3 linked regions of the Homo sapiens genome follow. The protein of the gene in region 2 interacts with the protein of the main gene of each other region in a pairwise test. Each region holds a gene or a part of one and is shown on either strand. Other genes may lie near its edges. The genes, in order: PLIN2, HTATIP2 and MIEF1.

Region 1 (3,652 bases), on a different chromosome or scaffold from region 2:
TTGCCCAGGCTGGTCCTGAATTCCTGGGCTCAAGTGATCTGCCTGCCTTGGCCTCCCAAAATGCTGAGATTACAGGTGTGAGCCATTGCACCCAGCCAAGATGCTATGCCTTCCCTCTGGAACCTTGGTCACCTTATTGCCCTTTCACCTAGTTTATTCACCCATTAGTTCTCAGCTTACCATTCATCTCTTCCAGAAAGCAATGTGACTCAACTACCCCCACTCCAAGGCTGCCTGAGATAGTCTTCCCATATGTTTTCTTTTTTTTTTTTTTGAGACAGAGTCTTACTCTGTTGCCCAGGCTGGAGTGCAGTAGCATGATCTCGGCTCATGGCAACCTCTGCCTCCCAGGTTCAAGCTATTCTCCTGCCTCAGCTGCCCGAGTAGCTGGGACTACAGGCACGTGCCACCATGCCTGGCTCATTTTTTGTATTTTTAGTAGAGACAGGGTTTCACCATGTTGGCCAGGATGGTCTCGATCTCCTGACCTCGTGATCTACCCGCCTCGGCCTCCCAAAGTGTTGGGATTACAGGCGTGAGCCATCGCGCCCAGCCAATAGTACCTGTATTTATGCCGTTAAACAACAACCGGACTTGGCTACTCTGAGTGTACTGCCTATGAGATAGCCCTCTTCTGCAAGGAGCATTAAAAAGGCACAAAATAGGACAGCATGGCTGGCTGTATCCCCTGTTAGTCTGTACCCATTATGAGGGCAAGGCCTGTGTTTCTCATTTAGTTGTATCTCACTTGGGGCATATGTATACTCATAGGTTGTTAGATAAAATTATTCGCTGCCTAGTTTTGCTTTTCTGCCACATAACTAGCCACCTATGTACATGGTATTGTTCAACCTTTTGATAGAGAAGAGTATTCTAAGACATAGTATGGAAAAATTGAAATGAAAAGTCTGATAAGAACTTCTTCAGCAACCAACAAATGACCGTCCCAGTCATCTTACCTCAGCACAGTGGGACTCATCAGTATCATCATATCCAATGCTCCTTTTCCACTCTACCCATGAGAGGTAGAGCTTATCCTGAGCATCCTGAATTTTCTGATTGGCACTATACACATTCTTCCTGGCAAATTCAATCTAGACACATTGAAACAAGACAAAGGAACACACAAGTCAGATATTCACGTTAGCCTGTTTGCAGATGTATGATGTAAATCAGGCAACATAAAAACTAAGAATTTCCTGGAGTTGAATAAGATCTATTCCTGCTATCATTATTATTTATTATCAATATGTGTAAATTAACCAAGCAGTAGTAGCTCTTTACTGCCTCTATTTAACTATTAAATCACTGACTCCACATTTACTTCCAGTTTAGCACAGGTAAAGCAACTAAAAAACTACAAAAAATTTTTTTTGAGTGTCACTCTGTCACCCAGGCTGAAGTACAGTGGCGCGATCACAGCTCACTGAACCTCCTTCTCGTGCCTTAGCCTACCGAGTAGCTGGGATTACAGGCATACGCCACCATGCCCAGCTAATTTTTGTATTTTTAGTAGAGACAGGATTTCACCTTGTTGGCCAGACTGGTCTCGAACTCCTGACCTCAGGTGATCCAACCACCTTGCCCTCCTAAAGTGCTGGGATTATAGGCATGAGCCACCACGCCCAGCCAGCAACTAAAATTTAATGTGTACATGAGTAAAGGATAAGTTAGCATTACAAAACAGAAAGGAATTTGACCTTCCTCTTCCCTGTTGCCAACCACTATTTCCCCTTCTAAGAAGAAATGGTTTTCTCATGGCAGTACAGAATGGTACATACTGTTCTTTAACTTGGAAACCTTTAATGGCTACACAGTAGTCTATTGTGATATATCAATTTAATTAGTCCTGTTAGTGGATGTGCATTGTTATAGTCTCTTGCAACTTTAAACAAATATACACATCTGTAAGATAAAAAGTAAAACAGCTCCAAGTGTAGGTATGCTTGTAACTTTACTAAAACTGTCTCTTGAATCAGTCCCTTAGAGCAAGAGCTGCACAAGTGTGGTTCTTTCTCTACACCGTTGCCAACAGCCACATTTCCCGTGTGGCAGGACAAGAGAGATGTCAGTATTTGACCCCTCAGAGCGAGATTAGCATTGCTTCCTATATTTCAACTAGTTATACTTCCTTTTTCTGTGAGCTGTCTCCATATTCTTTGTCCAGTTTTCTATTGGGTTGTTTGTCAACTAAGAATGAAATTCTTGGATTTTGTGATTACATTTAATTCTTGGGCCTAGAGATAAATGAACCCACTTCAGACACCTTAAAATAAAGTTTTACTCACCAGGTGAACAGTAGAATGGAGCTGAGAAATGGTCTGTTGGCTTTTTTGCTTAGCTTCTTTAACCCTGCTGAGAGCCTGCTGGTAGGCACGGGAGTGAAGCTTGGTAGACAGGGATCCCAGTCTAACATAATAACTTGGCTTCTGAACCAGATCAAATCCTTCAACTTTTTTTGCTTCTTTTTCTGAAGTTAGAAATAAGAGACAAAAAAACTTAAGGGATCACAGTGACAAGTGATAAGGCCTGGACTCTAACCTGGGTCTTGACTTTCTTACTTCTACCCAATCACTTAGCAATCATGCAGTCATTTTTCCAAGACTGCTCACGTCTGCTGCTGGACTTGACTACCCTGAACATATTACTGTATCTGATACACACTGCATGCATCTACACGTTTCTCCCACTAGAGTAAACTGCTTTTTTTTTTTTGGAAACAGGTCTTGCTTTGTTGCCCAGGCTGGAGTACAGTGGCACAATTTTGGCTCACTGCAGCCTCAACCTCCCGAGCTCAACTGATCCTCTCACCTCAGCCTCCCGAGTAGCTAGGACTCTAGGAACAAGCCACCATGCCCAGCTAATTTTTGTGTTTTTTAGGGTTTCGCCATGTTGCCCAGGCTAATCTCAAACTCCTGAACTCAAGCGATCTGCCTGTCTTAGCCTCCCAAAGTGCTGGGATTGTAGGCATGCATGCACCATTGCTCCCAGCCTAGAGTGAACTTGAGCGGCATGGTACCTGGCACACATTACCTAATGATGATTCTTTGTAAGGAGGATTTTATAAAGCAATCCATTAAAGACTATCCATTTACAGAAAATATTTTTCAAGGCCAATTTTTGCTAAGGTTTCAAAACTTACTACGTACGATTCAATGTGAACTTTATGATTGCTTTAGGAAGGAAAATCTATAGAGGCAAAAAGATTAGTGGTTGCTCACATCTGTAATCCCAGAACTTTGGGAGGTCAAGGCAGGTGGATCGTTTGAGCCCAGGAGTTCGAGATCAGCCTGGGCAACATAGTGAGATCCCATCTCTATAAAATTAAATTAAATTAAAAAGGACTGACTGCAAACAGGCATGAGGATCTTTTGGGGTAGCAGAAGTGTTCTGAAACTGGATTGCAGTGATGCTTGCACAACTGTGTAAATTTAGACTCAAGATGAGAGTATATGTCAATGAAGCTGTTTAAGAAAGATTTAATATAAAACAGTATTTCAAGATAAAATTCCAGTTACCTAGTTCTTCCTCAGTGAGAGGGAGGTACTGTTCTACCAACAGCTCTGATTTGGTGAGTGCATTTTCTACGCCACTGCTCACGAGCTGCATCATCCGACTCCCCAAGACTGTGTTAATGCTGCCACTGACCACA
Region 2 (3,652 bases):
ACTGGCATGAGGGGAAGAAACAGATGTGGAAGAAAAATTTAGTGTCTTAGAATTTTTCTATGTAGTTTTGGGCTGTTTCTCTTGGCACACTTTCAGCACATCTAAAGTCTCCATTTGGAGAATGGCTCTGAGGGTAATCACTTCTCTCAGGATGTGCTGAGTACTTAAATTGGTTTGCTTTACACTAATTTTAAAAGCAACTGCATGAATTTGAGTCGGTATATAGACAGCTTGGCAAGTCCGTTGTTCAGGACTGAGTGTCAAAGTATACAACAAAAAGTATACAAAAGGAGATGGTGATGACTCGTGAGTAAAGAGGTAAGTTTATATTACCCACAAACTAAGGTAGAAAAAGTAAGGCAGAAAAATAACACTGTCCTCCAGGTGGTGGATATAGTTAAAAATGTACTTGTGAGTGATGGGAAAGGAGGATGAGGAAGGCTTTTACAGTAATGGTAATGTTCTATTTCTTGATCTTGGAACTGGTGGCAGAGCATGTTCAGTTTATGAAAATTTATTGAGCTCTATACTTATGTTTACTTTTATGATACACTTCCATACAAAGTTAAAAAATCTGCATGGGCGTATTGTTTTAAAATTGAATTCTGTATTAGTTTCCTATTGCTGCTTTAATAAATTCCTCAAATTTAGCAGCTTAAGACAACACAAATTTATCATCTTAGAAGTCTGACACGGGTTTACCTGAGATAAAATCAAGGTGTTGACAGAGCTGCATTCCTTTCTGGGAGGCTGTAGGACAGAAACCATTTCCATACGTTTTTCAGCTTCTAGAGGCCACCCCCATTCCTTGGCCTGTGGTCCCCTTACCATCCTTAAGGCCAGCAATGTGGTAGCTGAGCCCTTCTTAGGTTGCATTACTCCAGCCTGCTCTTCTGCCTCGTTCTTTTACTTTTAAGGGCCCTTGTGATTACATTGGGCCCACATGGATAATTCAAACTAATCTCTCTGTTTCAAGGCCAGCTGATTAGCACCCTAATTCTAAACACTGAATTTCTAAAACACTGAATTTCCCTTCCACATCTATTTCTTCCCCTCATGCCAGTTCACTAGAACTCTGATTTTAATAATGTGTTTGTTACAACAAAATGACACAGTTGACTGGTGAAATAAATTCAGTTTTTTTGTTGTTGTTGTTTTAGCATGATTCATCTTGCTTCTGCCTAAATACCATCTGTGATGGAATTCCCCCTTGTCATGTAACATGACATATTCACAAAGATTAGGACGTGGGCATCTTTGAGGGACCATTATTCTGCCTACCACAATCACGGATTAGTCATTTTCATTAGCGAGAGAGGGTGGGGGATAAAAAAGGAACATGGGTACAGTGAAAAGAGCACTGCTCAGAGTCCAGAATCTGCACTCTGCTCTCGGCTCTCCCACTTCCCAGCTAACAGTTCACCCGCCCACTGGACCTTGGTTCCTGTCTATATCATGAGGGGACTGGATGTGATATTTCCTAAGGTACCTTCTAACATTCTGTGAAAGATACACATCGCCCTACCAAATAGAACATTTAGAATCAGTAACTACTGAGGAGCAAATTTTTTAATTAAAAAAAAAAATCAGGCCGGGCGCGGTGGCTCACACCTGTAATCCCAGCACTTTGGAAGGCCAAGGTGGGCGGGTCATCTGAGGTCAGGAGTTCAAGACCAGCCTCGCTAACGTGGTGAAACCCTGTCTCTACTAAAATACAAAAATTAGCCGGACATGGTGACATGTGTCTATAATCCCAGCTACTTGGGAGGCTGAGGCAGGAGAATCACTTGAACTCAGGAGGCAGAGGTTGTGGTGAGTGGAGACCACGCCACTGCCCTCCAGCCTGGGCAACAGAGCAAGACTGTCTCAATCAATCAATCACTGGGGCAGTAGTCCAGTCTTCAGATTTGGAATTCCTACTACTCTAAGACCTCATTCTGTAATTGTGACTACCTATAAAGTTCAGCTTCAATAGACTTTAGACTTGTCTTCAGCTGTCTTGGGTTTGAAGATGCCAGAATTTATGGTGGTCTCAAGAGACTGTTACTCCTTGGAATTCCCTTTTCTGGGTAAAGGTGCATGCTTTTCAGTTAGGCCCTGGAAGTGAGTCTATATTCTGTTATTTGTGTCATTCTCTTCCCTCCCCCTTTTATTGCCACTTAGTTCTGTTTGTTTCTGACTGGATTTACCTTTTCTCTGCTTTCATTGGCGTTTTGTTCATTCATTTTTGGAGCATCTACCATATGCTGGACATGTGCTGATGCTGAGAGATGAATTAAGAAAAAAGACCCAGCCACTGCCTTCACTGGACTGAATCTAGATTGGGTGTCTCCAAACACTTTTGACTAGAGACCCATTAATAAAAACGTTTGAGGATGCATTCTTTACTAATGTGTGAGGTACATTGTAGAGCATACACAAAAATTGGGAATTAAATAGACTTTGTTCTCTTAGTGCCTGGGGAGTGTCCTCACCCATACTCGGAGACCCTACCACATTAGAATTGACACAGAAAACAGGAGTGTAAAGTTGTGAAGTTATTAAGACAAAAAAAAAAGTCTGGCTTAAAAGTAGTTTCTCAGCCTGATCTTACTGTTCCCTTTGTTCTTTGCAGATTTGTTTGGTGTCTGTGTTTCAATGTCATTGTCCTTGTTTCCTTATTGCAGTCCAGTCTTGCTGCTAAAGCTGGTGTGCCTATCCAGAGGACCAGACCTGGAGCCTTTCCCAGGGTCTAAGCCTGACTTTCATGTATTGCTTGGACACATTTTATTTAGATCTCCATCCTTCTAGGCCTCCCAGCCTGCTACCCAAGCCAAGTAGTAATCTTTAAGATGAACTTGCTGCTTTTTGGAAATAACTCATGTCCTTTTCCCCCTTAGGAGGGATTTGTTCGTGTTGACCGAGATTATGTGCTGAAGTCTGCAGAGCTGGCAAAAGCTGGAGGGTGCAAACATTTCAACTTGCTATCCTCTAAAGGAGCTGATAAATCAAGCAATTTTTTATATCTACAAGTTAAGGTTTGTGCAAGTTTCTGTTTTTCATACACTTTGGAGAACCCTAGCTATTTGGCAGTACTAAAGAATATAAAATATTATATAATACAAAAACCATCAAATGCATCATATTATGCATTTGTATGGCTACGGGACTGCAGGAATATATTTAGTAAACAGGAATGATTGGAAAGGTAATTTCCAATGTCTTCCTCTCTATTAATTATCCAGCAACAAATGGAATGAGATATGGCATCTCCAGCCTTGACTGTCAGCATGGCAGCTTAGCATTGGAAGAGACTTGGAGGCAGTGATTCTTAAACTTTTCCGTCAGTCTCCCTAATGACTGAGCGGAAAGAAGAGCTTTTATTTGTGTAGAGATTTGGAGAAATCTATCCTGAAGCAGTATTCTAGTTACAGACTCAACTTTCTTTTCTTTTTTTTTTTTTTGAGACAGGTTCCCAGGCTGGAGTGCAGTGGCATGATCTTGGCTCGCTGCAGCCTCTGCCCCGCCAAGTAACTGGGACTAGAGGCATGAGCCACCATGCCTGGCTAATTTTTGTATTTTTGGTAGAGATGGGGTTTTGCCATGTTGCCCAGGCTGGTCTCAAACTCCTGAGTTCAAATGATCAGCCCATCTCAGCCTCCCAAAGTGCTGG
Region 3 (3,652 bases), on a different chromosome or scaffold from region 2:
AGTCGTGACTTCTTCAAGTCTACCTGGCCCTTCCTGGCCACTGGCTTGGGCCGGGGCGGGCAGAATGTATCTGCCAAGGCAAGAGAGAGAGGCACGTGAGCTCTGCCCATGCCTGCTCAGTCCACAGCTGCCTCAGCCCCAGAAAGAAGGGCCTGGCATGGAGGGCAAGTGCTGGCACAGTGCCTGGCACAGATGTGCTCAGGAAACATCTGCTGAGTGCAGGAGTGGTACTGAAAGTCCAGAGAGGTCCCAGGAGGGGCAGCAGCCCTTCTCACCTGTGTCGAAGGTGGAGGAGTCTGTGGGAAGGGTCTGCAAGGACCGGCTCAGGCCCGTCTTCATGTCCCTGTTCAGCAGTCGTGGGGAGCCCATCCAGTTGGGTTCTTCCCAGCTCCTTTTCCCCGAATGGCTCAGGCGGGTGGGGCTGGTAGGGGCACTGATCGCCCGATCGTACATCTGAAATAGCAGAGAGGACACAGGACATAAACCTGCCCTCTTTCCCTATTTCCTTCCAATTTACTTCCTCCCCAGAAGCTCTGTCCTAGTAAGTTCTTTTAGTAATTTTGTTTTTATTTTAGATTATAGAATACTTTGCTCCACGCAGAAAATCTCAGGGAAGACTACATGATATAAGACATAGATAATCCACGTCATGACCCAGAGAAAACTGTTTGTAATATCTGGTATGTTTCTTTCTAGATGCATGTAATGACGATCACTCTATACATACTTTTGAAACCTGTTTTTTTCACTTATCATTGCGATCATTTCCTCCTAGAACGCTTCGACATTTTCTTTCTATAAAACATTACATCTTATGACCATACCACTACATTCCACCCCCAGCCCTGGCTGCATGCACTTACCCGCTTAACTGCCAGCGTGGCGATGCCCAGCATGGCCGCTCCACCCACCCCCAGCACCAGCCGGGCATTGGAGAGCACAAAGTCAATGGCCGTGCCAATGCCATTGTCATCCTTCTTGCCTTTGCGCTCACCAGCGCCTGCCATTGCTCATCTGAGAATGAAGACAGAACACGGCCATAAGTACTGGGACCCCAAGAACCTCCCTCCCCTAACAAGCCAAACCCCAACAAGTACAGGGTACTCTGTGAGTTCCAGCAACCCAAATCTTCTTGCCTCCAGCACTGCATGCTTTAGGGTCTGGAGGGAGCTACAATGTCCCATGATAGATCAGGATGCAAGGAGGAGGGGCTGATCTTGGGTATTGTAGGAAAACTTTCCCCAAGCTAGTGAGATTAAGAAAGCATTAAGCTCAGTGTCAGTCCTTTTTTGTATTACAATGAAGTACCCCACCATGCAAAACAGCCCTCTCTCTGCCCCTTTACAATGTTAAAATGCAGGTCTCTACCCCTTCACAATGTTATAATGCAGGTCTCTACCCCTTCACAGGGGTTATAATGCAGGTCTCTACCCCTTCACAGGGGTTATAAAGCAGGTCTCTACCCCTTCACAGGGGTTATAATGCAGGTCTCTACCCCTTCACAGGGGTTATAATGCAGGTCTCTCTACCCCTTCACAGAGGTTATAAAGCAGGTCTCTCTACCCCATCACAGGGGTTATAATGCAGGTCATTTCTTCGTCCTTTGGCCACTACTTTGTGGAAGGTTAGATCTGAGCGGGACCTTGGAGCTCATCTAATGCCATCACATCACCTCACACAGAGGTTCTCAACATAGGGAGGTGATGTGTCAGGTCTCAGAGAAAAGAAATGGTACAGGCGCAGTGGCTCATGCCTATAATCCTAGCTACCCGGGAGGCTGAGGTGGGAAGATCGCTTGTGGCCAGAAGTTCAAGACCAACCTGAGCAACATGGCAAGACCCCCATCTCCAAAAGTAAAAGATAAAAATAAATTGAGCATGGTGGCACATGCCTGTAGTCCTATCTACTTAGGAGGCTGAGGCAGGAGGAATGCTTGAGCCCAGGAGTTTGAGGCTACAGTGAGCTATGATCACGCCACTGCACTCTAGCCTCAGTGACAGAGTGAGACCCCATCTCTTAAAAATAAAAATAAAAAAACAAAATGGGCCGGGCACGGTGACTCACGCCTGTAATCCCAGCACTTTGGGAGGCCGAGGCAGGCGGATCACCTGAGATCAGGAGTTCAAGACAAGCCTGGCCAACATGGAGAAACCCCGTCACTACTAAAAATATAAAATTAGCCAGATGTGACAGCGCATGCCTGTAATCCCAGCTTCTCAGGAGGCTGAGACAGGAGAATCCCTTGAACCCGGAAGGCGGAGGTTGCAGTGAGCCGAGATCACACGATTGCACTCTAGCCTGGGTAACAAGAGCTAAACTCCGTCTCAAAAACGAAAACAAAACGACACAGTCATCTCCAGAACTCAGGACTCCCCACTCCTTGTATGACGCTTTTTCTACTGTACCATGCTCACCCTTACCCAAATCAAATCGGCCCTTATTCTATCTACTTTCTGCAAACAAAACACAAAACAACATGTACCAAACATCCTGCACACGGAACTGAAACTACACGTCCATATGTGAGAAAGGTCCCTCCATGGACCCTCCTACTTGACAAATGCTTTGTTTCTTGAGAGAAGTGCGCAGCGGGGACTATAAAAGCTTAGGTGAGACTGGTATACCGGGAGATAAAAAACACAAAGGACACTGCAGACTCGACTGCTAACTGGAAAACAAAACACCCATCTGCTCGATTACACCTGGAAGAGGAACTAAAAATGTGTTCACCTGAAAGAAGTACTTGGGCACCACAGCGAAGAGGCTGGCCTCCAGTGCAGTGCTCAGGCCAGTGCTGCTCCCGACTACAGTGGAGTCTTCCTGACTGCAGCAGCAGCAGTCCCCAGATAAGCCCATTCCTGTGGAGTTAGAACCCTGGGCCTGAGCCGGATAAAGGATGACAGTGTGATTCAGATCGGAATACCACTCAGCATGCTGCCACTCTCCTCTATAATATCCCGTGTCCTTCACACCAGGAATGACATAAGGGAAAACAAAGTCGGATACCATTTAGCGTCCCAGAATGGGAGGACATCAAGAGACAGGATCAGCCGGGCGCGGTGGCTCACACCTGTAATCCCAGCACTTTGGGAGGCCAAGGTGGGTGGATCACGAGGTCGGAAGTTCAAGACCAGCCTGGCCAACATAGTGAAACCCCATCTCTACTAAAAATACAAAAAATTAGCCAGGCATGATGGTGCATGCCTGTAATCCCAGCTACTCGGGAGGCCAAGGCAGGAGAATCACCATTGCACTCCAGCCTGGGTGACAGAGCAAGACTCCGTCTTGAAGAAAAAAAAAAAAGGATCACTGAGGATTATCTTCCATGTAAAATAACATTCCTTCTAATACCGTGTTACAAGTGGATATTTCTAGCTTCCACATCTTACGCTCCTGCCTCTACCTCCCTGAAAAACAAAGAAATATTTCTGACTCTATTATTCCAGTAATTGAGTTAACTAAGAGTCACTGTCAAGCCCAAAAATATTTTTTTCCCTAACTAGAGTTCACACCTTGGGGGTACTTTCCTTTTCTCTACCATTTACAGTCAATAGAGGCTTCAGGTTTAGGGACATGAAAGACTATTTCGCCAAACCGAGTACATTCCCACCTCAAATGCACAGAGCAAAGCCAGGGAGAAGAGATAACGTTT

What was found.
Region 1: the proteins of HTATIP2 (region 2) and PLIN2 interact in binary tests that used the Homo sapiens proteins (3 or more experiments, as listed by UniProt).
Region 3: the proteins of HTATIP2 (region 2) and MIEF1 interact in binary tests that used the Homo sapiens proteins (3 or more experiments, as listed by UniProt).

What each region holds. Positions count from the first base shown.
Region 1 is NC_000009.12:19,117,362-19,121,013, forward strand, and holds part of PLIN2 (perilipin-2), read right to left. Parts: coding exon 3,519-3,652; intron 2,471-3,518; coding exon 2,289-2,470; intron 1,095-2,288; coding exon 960-1,094; intron 1-959. UniProt on the Homo sapiens protein: Structural component of lipid droplets, which is required for the formation and maintenance of lipid storage droplets.
Region 2 is NC_000011.10:20,373,701-20,377,352, forward strand, and holds part of HTATIP2 (protein HTATIP2), read left to right. Parts: intron 1-2,879; coding exon 2,880-3,017; intron 3,018-3,652. UniProt on the Homo sapiens protein: Represses translation by preventing reactivation of elongation factor eEF1A. May also inhibit nuclear import by competing with nuclear import substrates for binding to a subset of nuclear transport receptors.
Region 3 is NC_000022.11:39,508,650-39,512,301, reverse strand, and holds part of MIEF1 (mitochondrial dynamics protein MIEF1), read right to left. Parts: intron 2,881-3,652; exon of another isoform or gene 2,731-2,880; intron 1,015-2,730; 5' UTR 1,008-1,014; coding exon 864-1,007; intron 454-863; coding exon 276-453; intron 71-275; coding exon 1-70. UniProt on the Homo sapiens protein: Mitochondrial outer membrane protein which regulates mitochondrial fission/fusion dynamics.